Linked DNA regions of Homo sapiens: region 1 is linked to region 2. Evidence: fine-mapped expression QTL. A gene starts in region 2. The other region holds a variant in brackets. All regions are shown on one strand. Distances are from middle to middle. Region 1 overlaps SNX30 (sorting nexin family member 30). Region 2 holds the start of SLC46A2 (solute carrier family 46 member 2).

Evidence for each region. PIP is the estimated chance that this variant, and not a neighbour inherited with it, causes the effect.
Region 1: its variant is fine-mapped to the expression of SLC46A2 in monocytes (Kim-Hellmuth 2017, PIP 0.95).

The regions. Positions count from the first base shown.
Region 1 is chr9:112,856,807-112,866,665 of GRCh38, forward strand. It overlaps SNX30 (sorting nexin family member 30), which reads left to right. Exons shown (of 9, transcript NM_001012994.2): 8 at 7,441-7,593. Among named protein-coding and RNA genes, the nearest start is that of SLC46A2, 29 kb to the right of the region's middle. The variant G/A (reference allele first, on the strand shown) is at 5,937.
Region 2 is chr9:112,886,294-112,896,152 of GRCh38, forward strand. It overlaps SLC46A2 (solute carrier family 46 member 2), which reads right to left and starts at 4,583. Exons shown (of 4, transcript NM_033051.4): 1 at 3,260-4,583; 2 at 1,037-1,120; 3 at 167-323. The coding sequence starts at 4,388.

The DNA.
Region 1 (9,859 bases), 29 kb before region 2:
AGGACCCTCACCATGGGGCAGAAGACCAGGTGCCTCCAGCCAGAGCAGGCAGAACTCCCCCATCCCCTCAGCTGACTTAAGTCCCACCGCAGCCACCCTCTGCCAGTGCGGTGGTTTCCATGTGACAGATGGGGGCCCGGGGTCAGGGGAAGCGTGGAACTTAAGTGCCAAAGTCAACAAATGGTGGAGCCGGTATGGAGTCCAAGTGCATCTGGCTCCAAAACTGGTGCCTTTCCCCAGGGCGCGGGCCCCAGCAGCTGTGCTCCCTGAGGGGGCGCCCTGCCTTTCCCGAGGCAGGCACGGAGAGTGCGTGTGGCCTTCCCTGGGGCTTCACTCTCGTGTCATTGCGCAGGCAAGCTCGAGGATCTCTTGCTGTCAGCCTCTCTGCTCCTCATCTCATGCCCTCACCTCTCCCTCCCTCACTCCCCACTGACCATTCTCTGAAGTTTGTTTTTATCTATAATTAAAAAAGCATTCATTCAGAGAGCCACTGACTTTCTATTTGCCCAATTCCATGGCCTCTTTTCAGACTTGACCCTGTATCAGTGTTTTCTTACCTGTTTTCACCTCACAGCTCAAATAGACACTGAAAACGCAGTTGCTGGAAGCTGGAGGTGACCAGCCTGGGGGCTCTGGCTTCCCAGAGGGCAGAGGACCAATCTCTCTGCCACTCACACATTGCCAGTTAGGGAGCCCTGTCCCCTGCTCACTCAGCAGCGTGTGGCTGTCACTGGTCCTGGAGCCTGTCCTACAGCAGCCACGAGCTCCCCTTTCCTCCACACTTTGGGATTATATCTGTCTTGTGTAGTCTTTGGGGATTTTCCTAACCTACTATCATCATGAGAGCAGATAATGTGACATCTCCAACCCAGCTCCAAGAAGGAGACTTAAGTTGAGATTTCTGTTCTAGGGCCTGGAAATGCGTGGCACATGGAAGGAGCTCAGTAACGCATGCATGCATGCATCCATCCATCCATCCATCCATCCAACCATCCATCCATCCATCTATCTATTTATTTATTGCTCTGTTGCCAGGCTGGAGTGCAGTGGCTCAATCTCGGCTCACTGAGTAATGCGTTTTTAAATGAATGTTGAGTGAATTTAAGTTACTGTCCCGTTCCCCAGCACACAGAAATGCACAGTCCCATCCACGTGACTCTTCTGTCATTGCACTAACAACCTATATTCTGTAATGGAAATTCTCATGAGAGATTGGGAACCAAGGTGAAAAATGCAATTTTGTCACCTCTGTATAAATTTTTATCTTTTGAGGTCTTATCTGGTGATATTTTTCCTTGGTGTCATGATAAGCAACACCCAACCATTAGCAGTGCTGTGCCATGTCAACATCCTTCAGACGCATGGTAGCACAACCGTAACAATACCTCAGTCACGAAAATTAAAACATTGAGATAAGAGGAAATGCTGAGGGTGGTGGCCCACACCTGTTATTATCTCAGCACTCTGGGAGGCCAAGACAGGAAGATCGCCTGAGCTCAGGAGTTCGAGACCAGCCTGGGCAAGGTAGCAAGACCTCGCCTCTACTCCAGATAAAAATATTAGCTGGGTGTGATGGTGTGCATCTGTAGTTACAGCTACTCGGGAGGCTGAGGCAGGAGGATCGCTTGAACTTGGGAGATTGAGGCTACAGTGAGCTGTGATTGTGCCACTGCACTCCAGCCTGGGAAACAGAGCAAGACCTGTCTCAAAAATAAATAAAAAATAAAAGTAAAAAGAATGCTTAGTGTTACTGGTCAGTGAATTGATAGTTACAAAGACACTATCCAAAAAATCAAAGGTGGAAGAATACATGCCTGAGCATGAGTTGCCAGCGCTCCCCTTCTTCAAGTTGGGGAACTTCACAAGCTGGTCACAGACAGCTCACCCCAGTTCCTCTTTTTAATTCTTCCATCCTCTTCTAACTCCTACCACCCCTGGGCTTCTCTGGCTCTGTTCTCTCTGATTCACCACCTCCTCTTTCTGTGCCCGCCTTTCTGCCTTCCCGAGTGACTTTTGCTGAGTCCTTTATTAACCCTACACATGCTGGCTTCTCTGTGAGTTCAAACCTTGGGCCCTGCCTCCCTCAGCCCCACCTTTCCCTCCATATATTTAAACAAGATTATACTGTGGTAAAATATACAGAATATAAAATTTGCCATCTTAACCATTTAAAAGTGTACAGCTTAGTCGTGTTAAGCACATTTACATTGTTGTGCAATCGATATCTGGAACTCTTTTCATCTTGCAGAACTGAAACTCTGACCCATTAAACAACTCTCCATTCCCCCTCCTGCCGGCCTCTAGAAACCCCTGTTCTACTTTCTGTCTCTATGACTTTGACCATTCTAGATACCTCGTATCTAGAATAATATAATATTTATCCTGTGACTGGCTTATTTCACTCAGTGTAATGTCCTTGGTTTATCCATGTTGTAATGTGTTAGAATTCCCTTCCTTTTTGAGGCTGAATAATATCCCATATATATGGGACATACACACACATACATACATACACATACATATACATACCACATTTTGTTTATCCATTCATCAGTGGACATCTGTGTTGCTTTCATCTTTGGGCTACTGTGAATAATGCTGCTATAAACATGTGTATACAAGTATCTCTGAGACCCTGCTTTCAATTTCTTTGGATATGTACTCAGAAGTGGAATCCAGCAGGATCATATAGTAGTTCTATTTTAAAATTTTTGAGGAATCTCCATACTGTTTTCCATAGCAGCTATACTGTTTTACAATCCACCAACAATGTACAAGGGTTCTAGTTTCCCTATGTTCTTACCAACGCTTATCTATTTTTTTGAGACAGAGTCTTTCTCTGTCGCCCAGGCTAGAGTGCAGTGGCGTGATCTTGGCTCACTGCAATCTCCGCCTCCCGGAGACCAGCCAGGCTGGTCTCGAACTCCTGACCTCAGGTGATCCACTTGCCTTGGCCTCCTGAAGTGCTGGGATTACAGGTGTGAGCCGCTGCACCTGGCCTATTTTCTGTTTTTGTTATTTTTTTTAATAGTAGCCATCCTGATGAGTGTGAGGTGCTATCTCACTGTGGCTTTGATTAGCATTTCACTAGTGATTATGATGTTGAGCATCTTTTCATGTCCTTGTTGACTGTTTATCTTCTTTATTTTTATTTTTTTGAGATGGAGTCTCGCTCTGTCGCCAGGCTGGAGTGCAGTGGCGTGATCTCGGCTCACTGCAACCTCCACCTCCCTGGATCAAGCAATTCTCCTGCCTCAGCCTCCTAAGTAGTTGAGACTACAGGAGCACACCACCATGCCCAGCTAATTTTATTGTATTTTCAGTACAGACAGGGTTTCACCGTGTTGGCCAGGGTGGTCTCGATCTCTTGACCTTGTGATCTGCCCGCCTCAGGCTCCCAAAGTGCTGGGATTACAGGCGTGAGCCACTGCGCCCAGCTGACTGTTTATCTTCTTTGGAGATACGTTTAAGTCCTTTGCTCATTTTTAAATTTGGTTGTGTATTCTTTTCCATAAGCCTTTATAAAAGAGCTGTGTTTGGTTTTCTTGTTATCTCACCCCGCTTTGTGGAGGGAGGCATCACTCTTCCCCTGGCTGCAACTCCCTCCTTTCTGTGATCTGTGGACCTGTCCTTCATTCTGAGCCTTTGGTGGCATTAGTGCCACCCTAGTCATCCAGACTAGAAACTTCAGGCTTCTCTCGGACTCCCTGTATTTTATTTCTCATGGGCAGCCAGTTGCCAAATCTGTCAGTTCTGTCTCCACCAGGTTGGTTTACTCCATCCTCTCCCTTCTGGTGTTAGAGCCACAACCCCAGTTCCAGGATGCCCAGTGCAATCTCATGCTAATATGTAGTTTGGAGATGATTCATCTCTGGTGTCTAATGAAATCTCAGGGTGGAGTAGCATTGGCAAAGGGTGGCATAATGTTTGGGAGAACATATAATAATATAGTTTGTATTTGGAAGATGAAAACCTGTTTTATAACACATGGAATAAAGCTTGAGGAGCTGTGCAAGGGATAGATTATCTTTTGTGAACAGCAAATTATAATATTGATACTGATATGAGCTAACAAATGTTTATTGAGCACTTACTATATGCCAGGCACAAGTGTGTCACAGGTGTGCAATGACTCTCTGGAACCAGTGTTGCAGGGGTAAGAAGAATTTACCAAGACAATTATAGGTAAAGAAAAACAGATTTATTAGAAAAAGTAGGAAAATACATTGCAAGAGTGCAACAGGCAGATCAGCAGGAAGGGAGCTGACTGCCCAGAAACAAAGGCTTGCTGGGGATTTCATAGAATGGTGCTCGTGCTGTGTACTGAAGAGGGCTTCATGCAGTGCTGATAACTCCAAGGTCGCAGTGAGCAAACTTGCATTTTTCTATTAACTGAGGGTCTGGTGATAGCTGGGTGCAGGAAGATTGTGTTATTAATATTTGTGCAGGAAGGCTATGTGTCCTGGACCATGAAGAAAAGCAGAAGTATAGCTTAATCTGCCTTCTCTTTTTGCTTTCCCTTGGTCCTGTCAGCCCAACTCCCCCTTCCTAATTAGGACGCTGTAAAGCACTTAACACATATTAGCCTGTCTGGCCTCATGACAGCCTAGTGAGGCGGAGGATATTATTAGCCAGACAGAGAAGCTGAGGCCAGGTCCCAGGCCACACACCTGGTAAGTGGCAGGTGGGGTGTGCAAGCTAAGCTCTGGAAGTTTGGTTCTAGAGCTGTCCACTGCAGCTGGAGGAAGTGTGGGGCTTTTTCTATTCTCCAAGAGTGGGCATGAGTTAACTGGGCCTCAGGAAAGCAGGACTTTGGGACGAGCCTCAGGTTCCTCATCCCCTGCCACCCTCTGCCAGTCTTGCGAGCTGCAGTTCCCTCTCCGTGCCGCTGTGGGCCCTGTGGCCTGTGCACAATTCCTGCGGTGGGTCCTGGTGTCTTCTCTCCTCTGTCCCTTGTGTGTACCGCCACTCTGGAGTGCCTTCCAAGTGGTCAAACATCTCACATCTGTCATCTTTAAAGAGCCGCCTCAGTGCTGTTTCCTCCATGAGGCCCGATCTTCCCAGGTTGGCCGCCCCCTCCATCCTCCTCAGCGTGCTTATCACGGGGGCTGCAGGGGAAGCGACAACACTTACGATATCTTGCCTCAGTGTCTAGGCATGTTCCTGTTTCTTCCCAACTAGACTGTAGGTTACGGGAGACAAGATTTGTCTGTTGAGACCCAAGCACTTTTGTATTCCTCAGTGCCAAGCACAGAATGTGTTGTGAAACTGAGAAGCCAAATATTTCCCAGACCGAGGCTCAGGCAGTCCTAAAACCCACAGCCGTGGTTTAGACCCTGATTTTTCTGGGTCAGTCAGAGTTCCCATCTCCAGAACACACCTGGGAATCTTTAAACCTGGGAATCTTTCCTCTGTGAACAGTCCTGATTCAGAGACCCTGGCTGCCCTCCTCTCCACGTGTCCTGGTGAGGTTCTCTTTCCAGGGCTTTCCATTTTCTCCTCACAGCAGAAGTTTCGTTAAGCAAACAGGAAGTTGCTCATAGGCACCCTCACCCCAATGCAAGTGTGAGCAGTGGCCAGGAGACGGGTAAGGGAACTGGCCTGTGCCTGTGGGGAGGTGAGGCCAGCCAGAGACACTGGCTCGCTGGGCATCTTTCCATTGAGGCTGATTCCTGGAGTGACTCTGGAGAGGCAAGACTGGGATACTCTGGTTTTTATTTCAGTTTTTCCTGAGGTAACCAATAGTAATGGGTGGTCTTGGGAGGAGGCAAAAGAGACTTAAATCATGGCATCAGAAGAAAAAGTCAGTCTCTGACCTGGTATGGTGGCTCAAACCTGTAATTCCAGTGCTTTGGGGGACCGAGGTGGGAGGATCACTGGAGGCCAGGAGTTCGAGACCAGCCTGGACAACATAGCGCCACCACATCCTACTTATT[G/A]TAGAGATGGGGGTCTTACTATGTTGCCCAGGCTGGTCTCAAATTCCTGACCTCCAGTGATCTTCTGCCTTGGCCTCCCAAAGTGCTGGGAGGCATGAACCACTGCACTCAGCCCAGTATTTTTTTTTTCCCTCTTCCAGAAGCTTATGTGCTTTGAAGAAGGCCTCTTTCCCCATCTTAACAGAAAAATTCCTTGCTTTTAAATTTCCAGAGTGTCTAGTTATCTCTCTCTCCAGCTCATCCTGGTTTCACCCATGTCTAGTTCCCGTGTCAGGCACATTCAAATTCACTTGCCTTGGCCATGTCTCTTCCCTGACTCCTGTGTTCTACAACCATCTCCACGTGGTCTGTGGAGAAGATGGCTGAGTACCCTGAAGGTGTCCAGCTCCCTCAGGCCTGTCTTTCTCATTGGCATCATTCTGGGTCAGCTCCTTGTCCACGAGGCTTGGGTATAAACCTCCTCGATTGGTGGAAGTGGACTCCCAGGGGTGAGCCATGGCTTGGAGACAGTTTGGTTCATGGGCCCCAGCACACCAAACATAAAAGGCCTCACTTGTGGTTGGGATACATTTGGCAGGTCGGGGGTTTGACCTGGCTTTGGGCCTGTCGGCTCCCTGGCCGCCATCAGGGCTCAGTGAAGTGCTTGAGTTAGGAGAGAGAAGCCAGCTTTGGGAAGCGCTGCAGCCACAAAGCCCAAACTCCAGCTGCACAGGATGGTGAAATTCACCAAAGCAAAGTGAAAGTTGTGAAACTTCAAGTGACATAGTTCCCTTTTGAGAAAGTCTTCTAAACCTCTTTAAGAAAAACTTGAAATAGCCTGCTGTATATTTCTTCTTTGAATTTCAAATTTTTTTGACATGCATAAGTAACTTTCCTCCTGTTTTCTCAGACTTCTCTAACTCTCCATTTAAAAGTATCTGCTATTGGGAAAAGCATAAACAAGCCTCCAGTTTATTTATGATGTGGGGTTCAGAGGAGGCAGCTGGCCAGTAGTTGTCTTATTGCAATTCTCTGATTAATGAGGAAAGGCATCATCAAATGTCACAGCAATGGAATAGTTCATGTGATCTGGGAGAACCTACCTCTTCTCTAGTTCCAATATGGGACACAGGAGAATAGCAGGGCAATACAAATGCTGTATATTTGCAAAGTCTGCACACACTTTCAAGTGTGGATGAGTAAATCCTAAAAGGAACCAAAGACATATGAGTCTGAATTGCAATGTTTCTTCTTCCTGTGTGTAAATGGGGGTGTTTCCCCCACGAGTCTCTGTTGTGTTTGGATGGGTTTGAAGATCTGGGTTAGGAGAGCCCCTTTTCAGAGCTCCTCCTTAGACCTGAAAACCCAAGGTTTTGCTTTCAAATAAATGCCTCCAGAGGAGGGAGCGTGTTGATAGCATTTTAATGTAGGGCTTTGGCCTTTGACAAATGTGTGCTCAGAGGAGCTCAAGGCAAGAGATGCCAGTTTTGTGTGCAGGGCACCCATGTGTGCCTCCCTTTTCCAGGTACCGGCGGACGTCGAGAAATGTCAGGATCGGATGGAGTGTTTCAATGCTGACCTGAAAGCTGACATGGAGAGGTGGCAGAACAACAAGAGGCAGGACTTCCGGCAGCTACTCATGGGGATGGCTGACAAGAACATCCAGTATTATGAGAAGGTAATGAGTGTGCCCAACAAGACTGGTTTCTAATGGCCAGAGCCTTTCACATGGGCCTACCAGAAATCCACAAGCTGGGAATCCTGCTAGTCTCATCTCCTTCCCTTATTTTAGCTGCTTAGTCTTGGCTCCCGCTTCATGCCCTTGCCCAACCATGTGGCTGCAGTGCTGGGTTTGGCAGCAGAGGGGGTGCTCACAGGGGTTTCCCTTGCACATGCTGCTGGGGAAGCAGCCCATTCGTCTTCCATGCTTTCTGGGCCTGGCACTGGTTGCTTCCCAGAGCCAGTCAGACCTTCAGCACAGTGATGCTGCCACCGAATGGAGGCTTTGGGGTTACTTTACTCTGTGTTGGGGTTCTGTACACAGGGTCCCTTCAGTTTGGTTGTGCAGTGAACCCCTTTGGTCATCTGGTGAAGCCTATAGACCCCTCACCAAAATACTGTGCATTTGTTTTTTAAATAGACTTCAAAATATTGATTTTAAATACGTAAAATAAAGGGATGTAGGATTACAAAGGAAAGCAATTCTATTAAAAACTTTTACTCATGGATCCCCTTGACCAGGTTAAGCAGCGCACGCACATGCGCGTGCACACACACACACACCCACACACCCCACTACCACCACCACACCCCACACACACACTACACACACACCACACCCCCCCACACTACACACACACCACACATACACCACACACCCCCCATACTACATGCACACCACACACCCCCTACACATACACCCCACATACACACCCCACACACAACCCCCCCACACACGACACCCACACACCACACCCACATACCTCACACAACCCTCACACACAACCCCCACACACACCATACACACACCACACACACATAGAGATGACTCTTATCAGGCTACAGCCCAGTCCCCTCAATCAAGGTTTGCTTGATTCGTATGTCCAGCAAACCAGTGCGAGGCCAGGTGCAGTGGCTCACGCCCGTAATCCCAGCACTTGAAGAGTCCGAGGTGGGAGGATCACTTGAGCCCAGCTCAAGACCAGCCTAGGCAATGTAGTGGGACTGTCGTTACAAAAGATACAAAATGAGCCAGGTGTGGTGGCGTGTGCCTATAGTTCCAGCTACTCGGGAGGCTGTGGCAGGAGGATGGCTTGAGCCAGGAGTTCAAGGCTACAGTGAGTCATGATTGTGCACTACTGTACTCCAACCTGGGTAACAGAGTTTTTTGATCCTGTCACGCCATATATATATATATATATATATATATATATATATATATGTATGTATGTATGCACACACACACACACGTATACACACATATATATACACACATATACATACATACATACACACATGAGTGAGTGTGTGTGTGTGTGTATGTATGTATGTATGTATATATATATATATATTGCGATAGGGTCAAAAACTCTGTTACCCAGGTTGGAGTGCAGTAGTGCAGTCTGTTACCCAGAGTTCCTTTCTTCTGTAACTCCCACACCTTCCCTCTGCTGTTCAGCGGCCTTCCTACTACTACAAAACCAACTATGTCAAATGTCTCTGTTGCTCCCTTTGGTAATTAATCCCAGCGTTCCTAAAGTCCTGGTCCCAGGAGGACCCAACCCTGGTCTTAAGTACGTGTTTATCTGTCTTCCCACTATATCACAGGCAGGGCCACTGTCTTGGGGCCTGGTATTGCTTCTATACATATTTAACAAATGCTTTTTGTGCACTTGCTGTGTGCAAGGGGCAGTGTGTACCAAATTGATAAACAGCAGGATTCCTGCCCTGTGGAGGGTATGTGTTCATCAAAGGAGCCCACAGCTTCAGAGTGAGATAAGGAAAAGAACGGGAAACTGGGGGAGAAAATACTAGGGGGCATAATGCAGACTAAGGGTGGGAGGGGCAAGTGGAGTGGTCAGGAAAGGCCAGTCTGAGGAAATGACATTTCATCCGAGTCTCAGAGACAGAGGCTTGGAAAACATATATTCCAGGTATAGGAGACAACATACGCAAAGTCCCTGGGGCAGGAAAGAGTTTGGTACATTTGAGGACCAAATAGAAAACTGGTATGGCCTTGGTTTATCATGGCTGACATACAAAGTCCATTGCAGATCTGAAGTGATGGCCTAGGGAGAGAGCAGGACCTGGAATGCCACAGACCCCAGATCATCTTCCGTATATAAGGTGGGCTTCAGAGTTTAGCTTCCTCTCTAACCTCAGAGTCACCAAGGAGGAATCAGGAAGCAATTTCACCACTCTTCTTTCTGGCTTGACCTAGGATG
Region 2 (9,859 bases):
GTTGGGAAACAGGAGGACTTTTTCTTTGTGAGAGAGCCTACTCAGGACCCACTGCATAAATGCTGAAAATAAATAATGCAGTGATGGTGGGCTGGAGAAGGTCCAACATTCCTTGACCTAAGCATCAGGGTCCCAGCCCAAGCAGCAGATGCTGCTCCCATCCTACCTAATTGGAATGATGGCCAGGAAGGAGAGAAAGGAGGAGAGAGCAAAGCAGGAGCCCACAAACATGTCCATGGTGAGCTGGTAGATCTTGTTGTACAAGGTGGATGTCACCACGCCGGTCAGAGCCAAGGACAGCTGCAGTATGACGAACACCTTTCCTGTGGAAGGGACAGAGGTTACTCCGGAGTGCCTTGCTGTCCCTGCCTCACTCCCCATTAGCTGAGTCTCTGGAGAGTTCTTAGGGGACCCTTCCTTCTTACTCTCTCTCTCTCTCTCTTTTTTTAGAGACAGAGTCTTACTCTGTTGCCCAGGCTGGAGTGTAGTGCCACAATCCTGGCTCACTGCAGCCTTAAACTCCTGGGCTCAGGCAATCCTCCTGCCTCAGCCTCCCGAGTAGCTGGGACTACAGGCATGTGCCACCATGCCCTGCTAATTTTTAATTTTTTTTGTTTAGAGATGGGGGTCTCACTATGTTGTCCAGGCTGGTCTTGAACTCCCAGCCTCATGCGATCCTCTCACCTCGGCCTCCCAAAGCACTGGGATTACAGGAATTGAGCCACTGCACCTGGTGCCTTCTCAGTCTTTGTGTGGCTCAATTCACTAGGAATCCTGCCTCTATCTAGTTGAATCTTCCCAAGGCCTGTGGACGATAGAATCCTTCTTTGACTGTGGCTTTTCAGTGCCTGACTTTCTAAGTCACTCCTATACCCGTCTCCACTCTCTGTGCCCTGGATGGAAACCAGTGTTTCTAGTGTCTTCAAAGATGCTTCTGGAACTGTCTCAAGTGCCTTCTGCAGGTCTGTGCCTCATGCTTAGCAGCTCTGAAACAGCCCGGGCAGAAGATTCCAGAGAGATTCTGTTCACTACTCACCATAAGAGGAGCCCTTTATGAGTTTGGACATAGCTGATCGGATGGTTGTGACGGGGATGAGAGCAAACAGCATGACGGCTCGAGCTGAAAGAGATCACACAAGAACACTCCTTGCTGTAGCCCAGCCTGGGCCAAGGAGGAAATTATCAAAAGCCTCTCTTAGAACCCCCATCTCCCCACAATCCGAATGTGGCTTGACCTGGAGGAAGTCATTTCTCTGCTGGCACACTAGCGCCCTCCCTTGACCAGTCTGTGACCCTCTGAGCTCTGATGCTGCTGTGTATGCTGCATATCAGTCTGCAAGGTGGCTGGGCACAGTTGACATGGTGACAGATGGTGAAATGTGTCTTTACTGGTGGAGTTGAGTGATTACTAGGGAAGTGGAACTGGTACCACCAAAGTGACACAAGGCCCCTTTCTTTGTTTCTCCAGGAGAGAAGTGTCTGTCCTTGACATTAATGAACATCTCTGGGAGATAGTCCCGGGAGCTTTGGCAAATTGCCTCCAGCAATGTGTCCCATGAACGCATCCACTGCATAGCTCTCAAGCTCTATTCTCAAGCTCTATTGATTATCCAGATGCAGTGTGTGTGTGTGTGTGTGTGTGTGTGTGTGTGTGAGAGAGAGAGAGAGAGAGAACGCACAAGAGAGACAGATAGAGACAGACAGCCAGGCGTGGCGGCTCACGCCTGTAATCCTAGCACTCTGGGAGGCCGAGGCGGGTGGATCATCTGAGGTCAGGAGTTCGAGACCAGCCTGAACAACATGGTGAAACCCTGTCTCTACTAGAAATACAAAATTAGCTGGGTGTGGTGGTGCATGCCTATAATTCCAGCTACTTGGGAGGCTGAGGCAGGGGAATCACTTGAACCCAGGAGGTGGAAGTTGCAGTGAGCCGAGATCGTACCATCGCACTCCAGCCTGGGCAACAAGAGTGAAACTCCATCTCAAAAACAAAACAAAACAAAACAAAACCCAAAGAGAGACACAGAGAGAGGTGGTGGGCAAAAGGGGAAGGGGGTACTCTGTCCTATGCTGTTTAATTGAGAAGTGACCAGAGGTTACCTTGCCATTTTGTTAGGTGTTTCTAAGATGTGTGACCTGCCTGGGCCAAGAGCCAGCCTCAGATAACTGTCTGAAGTTGTTTTTTTGATATGATAGCCACTAGCCCCATATAACTATTTAAATTAAATACAATGACATAAAATTTAAAAATCTGTTCTTTAGTTGCGCTAGCTACATTTCAACGGCTCAATAGCCACATGGAGCCAGTGGCTTCTGTATTGGACAGAATGGATAGCAACTATTTCCATCATTCTAGAAAGTTCTATTGGAGCATTCATCTCGAGCTTTCTGCTTATAGTTGTCTGACTTGTGCCCTCAGATGGAAACTTAATGCTGCTTCCTTGGGGAATTTATTACATTGGTTGTGGAAGGCATTTACCGAGTATTTTAATGCATTTTTAAAAAGCCCTTGCTTGACTCCAAATGATTTTAATTAAGGGATCTTTTCAGTAGAATTACTTGAAATTCCACTCCTCCACGTTTTTTTTTTTTTGTTTGTTTGTTTTTTTTTTTTTGAGACAGAGTCTTGCTCTATCACCCAGGCTAGAGTGCAGTGGCACAATCTCGGCTCACTACAACCGCTGCCTCTTGGGTTCAAGTGATTCTTGTGCCTCAGCTTCCTGAGTAGCTAGGACTACAGGTGTGCACCACCACACCTGGCTAATTTTTATGCTTTTGGTAGAGATGAGGTTTTGCTATATTGGCCAGGCTGGTCTTGAACTCCTGGCCTCAAGTGATCCTCCCACCTCCCGCCCAAAGTGCTGGGATTACAGGCGAGAGCCTCTGCGCTCGGCCTTTGAAATTCCATCCCTTTAAAATGGCAAGGGGGTGTGGGGGAAGAAACCCAATTCCATCTCCTCTGTTGAAGGCCATCCTGAAGCCTCCCCTACTGACTCCAGGTACCACTGACCACACCTCCTTGACTGCCCAGAACCATGAACACCACTCTGGTAACATTTCATTCTCAATATAGATAATTAATTAACAATACATTACAGATAAACTCAGGGGCATATAATCTTGTGTCCCTTGTGCCTCCTAGGTAGCAGGTTCAATCCCTGGTGCTGAGCTAGGACACCCAGACCATGGCATCCCTGGTGTCAGCCCCATGATGCAGAGGGCTAGCAATGTCCTGCCTCCTCAAGAATGACAGACTCACCAATATAGAACATGTATGTCTCTTTCACAAAAGCCAAGAGGAGGGCTCCTGACCCAAAGGAGACCATCCCAATCATGATCATGGTGGTGTCCCGAAAGCAGCGGGAGAAGACCAGGACACCCAGGAAGCTGGTGATGAAGATGGTGTACCCTGCAGCCATACCATAGCCCACCTGCACTTGGTTCCAACCGAGAGGCTCCCTCAGCACAAAAAGAGGGATCACGTCCACTGTGCCCACCACCGCCAGGTCATATATGATAGCACCCACAAAGAGCAAGGCAATGGTGGTTTTATGGGGTTTTGCTTTTCCAGGAGATGGAGGGTGCCCCACTGCATACTGTTGGTCCAACTGATCAGGATCCAGAGTGCGGTATGTGCCAACCGTGCCAGACACGGTATCCACGGCGGGGAGCTCCTGGCTGGGTTTGGCCACCGACTCAGGGACCTTTAGCACCAAAAGGCTGTAGAGCAGGGCAAACGAGGCACAGCTCACGCTGCAGGCCGTCAGTATCAGGCCCTGCCCAGAGTGCCCAGCCATCTGCTTGAAGAGATGCCCGGAAGCCATGCTCCCGCAGAACCCCGCCAAGCCCAGCATCAGGTCAATGAGGATGAGGCGCACAGAGCGGCGGCCCTCGGAGGAGCCCAGCGATCCCAGCGCCATGACCCCGGACCAGAAGGCGGAGAAGCCGCCGAATAGCCCGTTCAGCGCCGCCGCCCCGTACAGCACCTCCACTGGCCAGTCCAGCAGCACCTTGAGCAGCAGCCCGAGGCGGGAGAGCAGGAAGCCCAGCAGCGACATGCAGATGGAGATCTTTCGGTGGTAGCGGTCGCTGAGCCATCCCAGCCCGTAGGCGGACAGCAGGGGGGACAGGCCCACCACAAGGTTGTAGATAATGTAGAAATTGGAGATGGCTCTCTGCTGTTGGTCCTCTAGAGCCCCCCGGGGCGATGGGCTGGCACTGTGGTTGGAGGAGCCTCCGGTTCCGTAGGACGCCTTCACCACGAGGAGTAGCCCCGCATCGTAGAGGGAGGCAGCCACCTGGGACGAGGCCACCACGGGCTCAACCCAGGTCCTCGGGTGGAAGCGAGGCAGGTGGCCCCTCCGCGGGCAGGTGACCTCGGGGCTCATGTGACCTCTCTGATGGGGATCGAAGGGCTTTCTGGCTGCAGTGACAAGGATATGCTCCCAAATTCGGCTGCTACGGCTGCTCAGGTTTCAGTCCCGGAGCGCGAGTGTGCTCCGTGCGCCGGGAGCGCGAGTGTGCTCCGTGCGCCGGGAGCGCGCCGGCCAGTGGCGAGCAGAGCCAGGGCACGCAGCGCCTGTGACAGCAGCCCGCCCAGCAGCCGAGTGACCTCCCGAGTGACTCCTCCTCAGGCCAGAAAAGGCCGCGCTCCACCCTGCCCTCGCCACCTCAGGCAGAGTAGGACTGGCGACAGTCCAGGGAAGCCAGGCGCGGGGGAGCGCACCGCGAGTGCTGGCTCCTGGCGCCAGCACCCCCGGGGCCGACGGGTCACGCTGCTCCTGTGAGCGCGGCCGCCTGACGGGGCCGAATTTCCCCACAGCCAGGCGTGCGTGCCCGGACCTCCCGCGGATCTCTGCGGACCCCCCACCACCGGGGCAGGGGCTGGAAGGAAGCTCCCCAGGACTGGCTCAGGGAGCGTTTCCAAATTCTCCCATCCCAGGAAGGCAGGTTTGCGCGAGGGGTGGGACGCCTAGGATTCTGCCTAGGATAAGTATTGGGGTGTGAAGTTTTATTTATAGATTTAATGCAACAGGGGCCCATGTGCTATAGGCAGCTGGGTAGCACTTTGAGAGAAGTAAAAACTTGGGAGCCGCCAGGTCCAGGCTCTTCTCCAAGCCAAAGGCCTCTTAGAGAAGAGTCCTGTTTGGTACACCTGCATTGGTGGGCCTAGTGCCTGGGCCTTGTCTAGAAGGCTCCTGCCCCAAACCCCAGGGCCAAGGGAGAGACGGCAAGATCCTGCCAGCCCTAGATGTCCCCCTAGATGATAAAACTGGACTCTTGGGCAGGGGCTTGAGCCCACTGGAAGGGGCAGAGTCACCAGGGTCCTCATCTGAATCAAGTGCCCAGGTCCCTTTCTGCTTGTTAGTAGTCACTCTTCTTCTGTCTGTGGGCTCACTCCCCTGGGCTGGGCTGAGACCTCCACTTCCCAGGTGGCCTCGCTTCTTGTTTAGGTACATACTTCTGCAAAGAAAACCAGGGTGATGGATGGTGCAGGGGCCAAAATGTACCACAGAGCATGACCTGTTCCATGGTCAGCCCCAGGGATGGAGACTCAAAGCACACAGCCTTCCTGTCCCTCTACCCACAATCCACTATAGCTCTGGCAGCGTGGATGATCAGGAACCCAAAGACATGAAAGGGAGACGCAGGTATGCAGGGAGAGCTTAAAATGCCACATGGATAATATACTCATGTAGGGAGTAGGGACTGGATTCCAAATGATTTAGTGTATCTATGTGCTCTTTTGGTAGTGTTTAGGTGGGCTATAATCTCCTCCCCTGCCACCCTCAACCTCCAGCATGGCCCAGCCTCCTCGTGTCTAGGCCCAGACGACTCTGCCTTCTGCAAAGAGAAAGACACACCTAGTCTTGCCCTTCAAGATGTGCCCCATGGATCTGGCCCAGCAGCCCATTTCCTTCTTCCTCCCCCTCACCTAGGGTCACCTTGGGAGATACATGTTTCACCCAACCCAAGCCTGGCTCTCCCACTCCATTCTTAATTTTTCCAGAGGCTACAGCAAACAGTCCAAACACCTTGATCCTATGAGGGGTGGAGACTCCAGTGAATGAGTAGGTTATGGGGCCAGGTGGTATTCCACAATCAAATATGGCCATGAGAACAACCTGACCCAGATGGACCACTCTGGCCACTTGATCAAGGAGTCTGTGCATTCTAGGGCTCTAGACTGTAGGGGGCAGCCCTTGTCATCTCTGGGAGGGTCTGTGGTATTTCAGTTCTTCCCATTGTCTTGGGAAACCAGGGACATTTGAAGGGTCTCTGAGAGAGTCACATCAGATCTAGAACAGATCTAGTAGGAGCTGGGTTATTAGGATGCTAGTCAGCCCTAGGAACCCCCAGGCTTCTGAGTTCTCTGGCCTGGAAATGAACAAGACTCAGGGTAGTCAGTGTCTCTCCCAGTTTAGGCTACTGTGGGTTGGATTATATTCTCATCATGTCCCCACTTCTTGCTCCATCTCTGAATGCAGGCCCCAGGTGAGCTAGCACCTGGTCATCCTCTGCAGCCCAGGCTACCAGCAAGTAGAGCCCTGACCTTGCCACTTCAAGATAGAATCTAGTCTCCAGTGCAAGGTTGGCTTCATTAAAGTGCAAGTACTAAATCTCTGATGTTTAGATTGATAAAATCACACTATTCCAGAAGAAAGGAACTAAGAAAAAAAACAGTAGCAACTAATATTTTTTGAGCCCTTATTATGTACTAAGCATTTTACGTGAATGAATTTAATCCTCCCGAGAAGTCTGTGAGCTGATCTATCACCCCATTTTTACAGACTGAGATACTGAAACCAGAGAGGTTAGGAAATTTGCACAAGATCACAAGGCCAGTAAATCAGGAAACTAGTATTTGGCATCAGACAGTCTTTGCAAGCCTACAGCTATGGGGAAAATACAGTTGCCAGAAATTTTTATTTGAGGATGTCCTCTTAACCCACATTGGAATGTGGAGAGGAGTAGAAACAACACAATCATGTTGTGATTATTGTTGATCAACAATGTATTGCATAAATAGGAACAAGAGAGTGGATAGATTATCTGTTGAACCTATATCCCAGGCACTTTACACTCAGGCAAGGAATACTTTTGTTTTCTTAACAAAATTCATAGCCCCTAAATTCATCTTAGAAAGGAACAGTCTTTGAAAAACACCTTTGGTCAGTGTTAGAGAGTGAAATTCTCAGGTCTGAGGATTCCAGCTGTGGAGGAGGTTCCAGAGAGGGGGCGGAACCTTTATGCTTGAGTCAACGAGAGGGAAGGGTGAGAGAGAGAACCAAGGAGGGAGAAGAGAGGGGAAAGAAGTTCAGGGAGGAAGTAAGATCAGCAGGTATTGGTGAGAAGGGTCAGGACTAGAACTCTTGGCGTCAGGGTGGTCTGAAGGAACTTTTGAAGAATAAGAATGTCTAGTGTGGATTTTAAACATCTTACTGTATCATGTACATGTGAATCCTTAGTGTGACCTCCCTTTGCTCCTCAGTTCTTAATTTCTTTTTCTTTCTTTTTTTCTTTTCTTTCTTTTTTTTTTTTAGACAGGGTCTTGCTTCTGTTGCTCAGGCTGGAGTGCAGTGTTGCGATCAAAGCTCACTAGAACCTCAAATTCCCGGGCTCAGCCAATCCTCCTGCTCCAGCCTCCCAAGTAATTGGGGCTACAGGCATGCACCACTGCACCCAGTTAATTTTAATTTTAATTTTTTTTCTGGTAAAAACAGCATCTCACTATGTTATCCAGGTTGCTCAGATTGGTCTCAAACCCTTGGCTTCAAGCGATCCTCCCACATCAGCCTCCCAAAGTGCTGGGATTACAGGTGTGAATCACTGCACCTGGCCTTCCTGAGTTCTTTAGAAAAGTTTATTCATAAATGTTTTGTGCAAGTGGCATTTTTTTTTTGTTTTTTATTTTGGTAGAAACTGCTGAGGAAGCTATGATTCATCTCTGGATTGACATAATGCTGAGCAGAGACCACAAGGGAGGAAAAGGAAGCCATGAGAACACAAATCTCCCAAGGATTCACTGAAATCTGGAATAGGCTTTGGACTTTCACAGGCTATGAGATTGGGGAGTTAAGCCATCTGACCCAGATCCTGAGGGGCAGAGAGACCCTTCAGCTAATGTGCAGACTACACTGATGGGGAAGGCCAAGGCAGGAGGAGTGCCTGAAGCCAGGAGTTTGAGACCAGGCTAGGCATCCTGGGCAATGCAGTGAGACCGTCTCTACAGAAAAAACTTAAAAATTAGCTGGGCATAGTGGTGCATACCTGTAGTCCCAGGTATTTGGGAGGCTGGGGTGGAAGGATAGCTTGAGCCCGGGAGTTTGAGGCTCCAGTGAGCTATGATTGCACCACTTCACTCCAGCCTGGGCAACAGAAAGAGACCGTCTCTCTTTATTGTTAATATTTCAGGGGCTGTGGTAAGCCTTTCCCTCAAAAATTGGGAGCAAGGAAAATAAGATACCCCCTCAAGCATTAATATATAGTAGAAAAAAGTAAAGATGTATAAACTCATTCAAGAAGACAGAGACAAATCTTGTCAGTGACCACCAAGGACTTTATTTCAAGTGTTTCCCAATGACTGTCTCATCACTACATGCAAGATGTTGCCCAAGTCTCTTTGCCTGACCTTGAGAACTTTCTGATTGTGGTTTTACTTCCCCATTATAGTTGCAAACAGGGAGAAAATGTGCTAGTTACTTTGAGTCTCCAAATAATTTCCCCTGATAAATTAATAAATTAGCGTTCTAGTTTATGTATCAGCCTTTCTGGGTCTGAATCTGGGAAATGGCTTCCCTCCCCGTATACTGATGAAATGAAGTATATTACGGTTAGACTGAGAGTCAGGCCCTGTCCACAGTAAATTCATCAAAATAATGACTGCCACCCATGGATGCCCTTGGAATATTGTTTCATTGGGCTTTTCCCTCAGAGGTGGCACCCTAACATTGCCCAGTTTTATAGAAACTTTGACTTAGGGTAGCTAAATCACTTGCACAAGGTCACACAGAGCCAGGTACTTAGGGTTGTGTGACTTCAGAATCTATCTATTTTCACAGTGCTTCATTTCTGAGGTAATTGAGTAGAAGGGGTGCATTTTAAGAAGGTGTTTGGTTGTTGAATGTTTCCCACCAAATATTGTGAGCCTATATTTCTATCTAAGATATTTTCAAACTCAGTGGTTAGTTTGTTCGTTTACTCATTCATCATCTGTCCATCCACCCATTTACCCACCCATCATCCATCCATCTACCCACACATCTATCCATCCATCCACCCACCCACCCATCATCCATCCATCTATCTACCCATCCATCCACCCACCCACCCATCATTCATCCATCCATCCATCTACCCATTCACCCTTCTACCCTTCCATCCACCCACCCACCCATCATCCATCTGTCTATTCATCCACCAACCCATTATTAATCCATCCATCCACCCACCCATTATCCATCTACCCATCCACCCACCCATCCACCCATCCATCCATCCACCCACCCATCATCCATCCATCTACCCATCAACCCACCCATCATCCATCCATCCACCCACCCATCATCCATTCATCTGTCCACCACCCACACGTTATCCATCCATCCATCTATCCATCTACCCACCTATCACCCATCCATCCATCCATCCACCCATTCACCCATCCATCCATCCATCCATCCATCCATCCATCCATCCACCCATCATCCATCCAATGCATCATCTATCCATCCATCCCTTTGTTAATCTTTAAGCACTTATTGAGTATCAGGCCCACCAATAGGTATGAGGGATGCAAATTCCTTTGCCCTTAAGGATCTTTTAGTCTGAAGAGTTATCAAAAGGCACTCAAGTTAAC